Homo sapiens: one gene and its partner. The protein of the gene in region 1 purifies or fractionates together with the protein of each later gene. This does not show direct contact. Each region holds a gene or a part of one and is shown on either strand. Other genes may lie near its edges.

Evidence for each region. Proteins that work in one complex are often made in the same cells at the same time.
Region 2: the proteins of C4BPA (region 1) and C5orf15 purify together in Homo sapiens (affinity purification with mass spectrometry; one large-scale study listed by BioGRID and IntAct). This does not show direct contact.

What each region holds. Positions count from the first base shown.
Region 1 is NC_000001.11:207,121,168-207,124,820, reverse strand, and holds part of C4BPA (C4b-binding protein alpha chain precursor), read right to left. Parts: intron 900-3,653; coding exon 814-899; intron 647-813; coding exon 455-646; intron 1-454. UniProt on the Homo sapiens protein: Controls the classical pathway of complement activation. It binds as a cofactor to C3b/C4b inactivator (C3bINA), which then hydrolyzes the complement fragment C4b.
Region 2 is NC_000005.10:133,966,400-133,970,152, reverse strand, and holds the start of C5orf15 (keratinocyte-associated transmembrane protein 2 precursor), read left to right. Parts: upstream 1-1,527; 5' UTR 1,528-1,568; coding exon 1,569-1,707; intron 1,708-3,753.

The DNA of each region.
Region 1 (3,653 bases):
TCTTAGCCAGGACACAATTGGCCTTTCTCTCTTCGTCTACTGAAGAGACTGTGAAGGCACATTTTGAAATGGAGGTGCCATAAGATCAAAGCAACCTGGCTTGCTGAGCTAGTTGCTAAGCTAACACAGACTACGGCTGCCCTGGAGAGTCTCCTGGACATGGAACAAACTCAGTGTAAATGAGAATAAACTTTTACTTCACCAAACCAGTGAGATGTTGTTGCTGTTTGTTCCCATATACTGTTAGCTCCCAGTTCACCACTCCCATTTTTATGGCTTTTATATTCTAAACAAACATGCAATAAGTATCAGGTGGCCAAATAAATGATTGCATCAGAGCGATAGTTAGTTTATCTTTGAATTTTCCATTTGCCCCCCAATAAATTTACCTTTCTTTCTCTTTTAAACAAAAGAGAGCAAACATTTTGATGCAGAATTCATCATTATGACTTACTTTCACAGGTAGGAGGGCTTGGTCTCCAAACACCTATTGTTTCATTCTCCACAGTGCAAGAAATGGAGGCATGGCCCAAGAGTGAGAAGCGGGGGTCACAGCTGTAGGTGACAGAAAAGCCGTATGCGTAGAAATTTTCTTCACCGCTGTGCCTTCCATTCCTGATGTCTGGAGGAGGCTTACACTTGACAACTGAGGTAAGTGAGTGAAGAGAAAGAAATACTCAGCGAAGGCATCATGATAAATCTAAAATTCATGCAAATTCTAATGGAAGGTACACATACCTGTAAAGATGCACAGGGACTTTATTACCTAACAGAGTTTAAATTGATAGTCAAGTCAGAAGAGTCTTTACTTACTTTCACATTGTGGGAGAGGATGACTCCAGCCAACTCCTCTATCTTGGACTTCACAACGACTAGTGGTTGAGCCAATTAAGAAAAATCTGAATAAGATAGATCAAAGATTTTAATGGAATTCCTCCTACCCTAAATTAAATTAAAGAGGTCTGAGCAAATAGAATTGTTACTCAATATTAAAATAAGGAAATCATATGTTCTTGGATATCATTTCCCATTAAGCACTCCATTCAGTAAAATTTCATTACTGCAATGAGATGCGTGTGTTTTTTCCTTTGGACCCTCATTCCTTAATCTGTTACTGAGCATCTACTAGGGATCAGGAATGCAGTTCATCCAGAGCTCAAGCACAACAATAAAAGGCTGGCTTCAGCGTGTTCTGTGGTTGTCTCTGGGTGAGAGTACCAGCTAGATTACTGAGTCCACAATCTCCCCATCTTTGGCTTGAAGCTTCCTCTGACTTCCAGGTGGGTGTCTTATTCCCATACATCATTAGCTTTCAGTTCACCACTTCCATTTTTACGGCTCTTGATATGTCCTACTCTTTCCTCAGTTCGTCTTCCTGCCCTCTATCTTATGCTAACAGAAAAAAACAAAAGATATGAATGATTACAAATTGTAGCATCATCAAGGATATTGATAATCATCAATGATATCAAATTGTAGCATCATCAAGGAATAAACTTACAATGTGATAGAACACTAAAGCAAATGTCACCTTCAGCAATCTAAGAGCCTGTGGAATTTATTGAATAATAACTTCAAGAAAATATATCTCAACTACAACTACAATTAAGTATTTCTTTACTTTAAAATTTCTTTAAAATGTAGTTTTTCCAACCTAGCCCAGAGACTAAGTGCAAAATATTGTTTCTGGTTGTTTCAATGGGAACACCTTAGTGTTTCAACAGCATCTTAGTTCTGATTCTTTTCACTTTCCCTTATGGAAGCCATACACAATAAGGAAAACAGAGGATAAAAATGAGAAAATCAACAAAAATGAAACAAACGGAAAAGATAAGAGAAAACTAATAGATATAGGTAACAAGCAAAAGAGAATCAACATAGGCTTAATTGGATAACCTAAAGAAGGAATCCAAGTAGAACAAAATAGCTTTTTAAAAATTTGTTTCAGGCCAGGTGTGGTGGCTTACTCCTGTAATACCAGTACTTTGGGACGCTGAGGCAGGTGAATTCTTTGAGACCAGGAGTTCAAGACCAGCCTGGCCAATATGACAAAACCCCATCTCTATTAAAAATACAAAAATCAGCTGGGCATGGTGCTGCTCTCCTGTAGTCCCAGCTACTTGAGAGGCTGAGGTGGGAGGATTGCTTGAGCCCAGGAAGTTGAGGCTGCAGTGAGCTATGATCGTGCCACTGCACTCCAGCCTGGGCAAAGGGAGTGAGACCTTGACTCAAAAAATATATATATTTCAAGTAAATGTTACTAAAATAAAACAATACGTCAATCTACATATTAAAATTGCACATCACATAGTAGCAAAAAATTAAACCAAGTGATTTCTACCAAAACAACTAAGAGTAAAAGTATTAGGTTTCAAAGATAAAGAATAATAATTTAGATAGTCAAACAAAGATCAAGCCATATGAGAAGAAATTTCAGATCAGTAGTATTCACTAGCAAAAGATAGTGCAGCAGTACCTATAAGACATCCAAGAAAAGAAAGGATGAGCCAAGGACTATATCAAGCCCCATTATCTTCTAGGTATCAATGCCTCAGATATATTATCTGAACCTGCAAGAACTCAAAGAATAATTTTCACTTGGGACTTTTTTTTGGAAACCACCATAGGACAAACTACAGCCAACCAAGAGATGACAATGGCAACTTTAGCCAAAATAAACAAAAATGGTAGCAAACATTGTACATGCAGATCTAAGAAAAAACAAATGTGATTTTAAGTGTGACTGAAGGAAATATAAATGTTATATGCTCAGACAGCACTGAAATAGTATAACTAAGAAAAAATAGAGACAGGGAAGAGAGGGTAAAATAAATTCCCTTATTGCCTGATCATTTGCAAAGTTGAGAATGAAAGCAACCATAGACACATATGAATATTTCACATTAATGTTAAATACAAAATAAACACTAAGATAATACAAATGATACAAATTTACTGGTAGGGAAGATAGAAGGGGTGAAGGAGGGGTAAGAATACAAGATAAGTTTATTGTTGTTTATAACAAGGAACCAATTTAAACTGTCTAAAGATAAAGAGGAATAATGATATTATATAAATTTAAATGTATATAGGTCACCACTAGAAACAAATTTTGAACCTTCCTAAATACCACCATATATTTTTAATAGAAAATAAATATACACATACATATATAACAAAATATGAAATAATATGATAAAACCAAGTCTATAAGTATCACTCACATCAATAAATGTAAACTCCTAATGAAAGAAAAACAGCTTTTAATTGGAGAAAATTCAGCTCTGTTATATACAGGAGACAAACCTAAAAGTGTTTCAGACAGATTAAAAATAAAAGACAGCATAAAATTATACCAAGCAAATTCAAAAGAAAACCAAAGATAATAATTTTAATATCCCATAAGTTGGACATCAGAACCAAGATTATTAAATGACACACAATGGGTACTTTATATGTTAAAGATTTTGATTTTCAGTGAAGAGCTATGAATCTTTATGTAGCAAAATATGTATGTAGCAGCAATTTTAATAAAACAGAAGTATATGAGACAAGAAAAATAATCAAAATATGCTAATTATCATTAAATTATTTTATAATGGTTAAAATAATTATAAAATTATTAATTTACTTTAACTCCTATCTTCATGCTT
Region 2 (3,753 bases), on another chromosome or scaffold:
AAGCTCATTTGTTGAACTGAGTGGTTTTACAGAAAACTTAAGTACCGCTCAGAGAAGGGAAGCTCCTGGGGGACTGGGAGGACTTTGCACCTTGGCTAAAGTGGAGAGTTTGCAATAAGGACACCATTCAGTCTAATACGGGCTTCTGGGGGATTTCGGGAAATGTGCAGATGAATGACTTCTTAGTTTTCTTAACACAGAGTTTGTGTGTTTCTGAGCTGTCACCAGGGTGAGATAAAAGCTTAGGGGAAACCAGATTCAGGAGTAGAACACAGGCCCTTTAGAGAGACAGCTCAGCTGTGTCTCTGGGGGATAACAGCAATCTTCGCAGGGAATCATAGAGACCAGAATGGTGAAGCTGTGGGCACAATAAATGTCTTGCTTAACGTCACATTGATTTTCCTGAAATTGATCAAATGGAACTTTTATGAATTGAAGCCTGTATCTGTTTATTAAGGAGACATTTACAGAACGTACACACAGAGCAAAGTATGGCGCCAGGGCCCTAGGTGAACTTCTTGGAAGTTTGTAAGTTTGCATTTTTATACACTGGGGATTTCAAGTAACAAAATTTAAAAAGAGAAGCTTATTTTAGGAAATCTGAAAGTTATTTTCAATGGCAGCCCCTCACCTCTACTTCCTAGCTACCTTCCTTTCTTTTCCTCCATAATTTTTTTTTTTTTTTTGAGACGGAGTCTGTGGCCCAGGCTAGAGTGCAGTGGCATCTCGGCTCCCTGCAGCCTCCACCTCCCGGGTTACAGCGATTCTCCTACCTCAGCCTCCCGAGTAGCTGCGATTACAGGCACGCGCCACCACGCCTGGCTAATTTTTGTATTTTTAGTAGAGTCGGGGTTTCTCCATGTTGGCCAGGCTGGTCTCCAACTCCGGACCTCAGGTGATCTGCCCTCCTCGGCCTCCCAAAGTGCTGGGAGCCACTGCACTAGGGCCGGTCCATAATATCTTTATCATCTTGTATAGTGTGTATTTTACACCATATTCGCCCTCACAAGAAAATAAACTGCCAAGGCGGGCGGGGGGGTGGGGGGTTCTTTTTGTTCACTGCTGTATCTTAAATAGGGAGAGGTGCTAAATCTTTGTTGAAAAAAAATAAATGACTGTCGGGAAAGATTTTTAAAAATTACTTATAATCCCATCACCGAAATAGGACTACTTAACATTTGTGTTTCTTTCGCCTTTGAGAGAGGAAGAGCAGTTACTTCGCTTTCGTGATCAGTCTGTTCTACAGCTGGATCTTCCTTTTTAAAATGGCTAAAAACGCTATTTTTGGCTGTATAGTACCCAATCATGCAGGCGGCAGGGAGGGGCTCGCTTTGGCCCTCTTCAGCACGTCACACCCTACCTTTAATCCGCAGCCAACTGTGTGGCGGTCCCCACTTTCGCCTAGCGGCAACTCCCTCCTCCCTGCAATCCTTCCTTCTTATTCCGGTTTCCAGAGCACGTCTCCAGGCTTCGACGTCACCACGCTGGGACGTATGTGCCGAGGGCCGCGGCGTCTGACCTCATGGCGTAGAGCCTAGCAACAGCGCAGGCTCCCAGCCGAGTCCGTTATGGCCGCTGCCGTCCCGAAGAGGATGAGGGGGCCAGCACAAGCGAAACTGCTGCCCGGGTCGGCCATCCAAGCCCTTGTGGGGTTGGCGCGGCCGCTGGTCTTGGCGCTCCTGCTTGTGTCCGCCGCTCTATCCAGTGGTAAAGGGGGGCGGCAGTGTGGGCTTAGGAAGGCTAGGAGGGCTCGGGCGCAGGGCAGGAGACAGGCCGGGCCAGGGAAAGGGCGCTTCCAAGTGTCAGGAGCAGACGGCGGTGTCTGGTTGGGTCAGGGTCTCCGCGGGCCTGAGGACGGAGGGTATGGTGTCTGAAGGGGTCCAAGGTGGTAGGGTCTCCAAGGGGCCTGAGAAGCGGGGTCCCTGAGAGATGCAGGAACCCAGGGAGCAGGCAGCAGGGTGTGTAGATGGGCGGGGAGGGAGGAGTGGTGTTAGCGCCTAGAGATCGTTGAAGAATGGGCTGCCGCAAGGAATGGCGGTGGTGGGGTCTCCAAAATTTCTTGGATCGGAAAGTTAGGAGACTCTGGAAGAGAGGGTGGCGACAGGGGCTGAGGAGGTGGCCGGGGCTGGGGGTGTGGTGTCTGGAAAGGGTCCTGAGTTTGGGGGACTCAGGAATCTTGCAGGACCAAGGAAAGGTGGGGGTTTTCCAGAATGGGAGAGGTCAGTGGTAAAGACCGAGGCGGGCAGGGGCAGTAATCCAGTGACTGGACTGAACCAATGGAATATTTCCGAGAGGGAAAGTGAAAGGGAAAGAGCTGTCTTAGGGTACTGGTGCATATTTGAAGACTGGGAGGTTCTGGTGTTTGATAAAGATTCAGAGTACTGGGGCGTTGGGCCCCTGAAGGCTTGGGAGGCAGAGAGGAGTTTGGAGACAAGGGAGATCATGATTCCTCTTCCCTGTGTTCCGAGTTAACCAGGATAACCCTGCCTCGTTTTAATGCATCTGTAGGATTTGATTGATAAAATATTTCATTTCTTGCAAATGTTGCATGGTGAAATCAAGAGATTGAAGGCTTTTATTGAGAAATTAGGAAATCTGTAAACCAGTGCCTGATACTTGGTGGGAAAAATCCACTATTAAGAACTTGTAAGGATTAAACGGTATTTTGTTTAGTAGTCCCATTTTTCTTTCAGGCCAAGACACAGTCCTGCGTTTCTCCCTAAATTTGAATTTTCAGCTGCAAAACAGTGTGACCTGGTATAGTGTTTTCTTTCTTGCCAGCAGGGCCTGTCCAGCCCTACATTCCTCTGCGACAGTACTGTGGGTACATACTTATGTTTCCTCAGCAACATTTCAGTGTTGCTAACTGGACGCCCTCCCAGAAGTCTTTGCAGTCCCTGAGGAAGGACTGCTGTCCATTTCCTAAGGCCCTTTTATCATTAGTGAAATGTAATGAGGATTTCCCTGGTTGATGCAGATATTCCCGTTCCTAAAGTACTTAAGTAGCTTAATTGTTTTGGCCATTTAATCATCTAAGAAAAATAAAACACAAACATTTATATTTCCTGCTGGAATGCTTAAGGGATATATATCTGGCAACTGTAGTTTCAGAAACAGCTTTTTTCCCCTAAGAGATGGTTGAAAATTGGGCAAGAAGTGAGGCAGAATGTGGACTGTTAAGTGTCCTTTAGTCTCTGCTTTTATTTGTTAGAGCCCTATAAATATTTTTCTAACTATACTGAGACATTTTAGAGAATCTTTATCTTTTAAATTAAGTCTTTACATACACCAGTTTAAAATGTCATAAATTCAGATTATTCTGTCCTGAAAAGAAGCTAAATGAAAACGAACATACATGTCTTTAATAGGCGAGCAGCTCCACTGCACTACAGTGTAGCTTGGGATATAAGTATTTTTTGTAAGCATACCTTATAATTTCAAAGTAGTCACTCCTGTAATAAGAAAATTAGTCTAGAATGTGTTGAGTTCCAAATTTCAAGTGAGTTTACAAAGGTAGAAGGTTACCACATTAGATTTATTTAAATTTGTTCCATATTAGGTTTTAAAAACTGTCAATGCTTGGTTATATGCTCGTCAGTCTGTAAGAATTTTTGTTTTATGTTTTTGTTTTGATCAAGTCTAAAAAATTAACATAAGCAGTTTGGATCACTGGGTGACTAATTCTTGGTCATGCCATTTCAAAAATGCCTGGTTCTCTACATTTGCCATTATATTGTCCCCAAATGATCACCT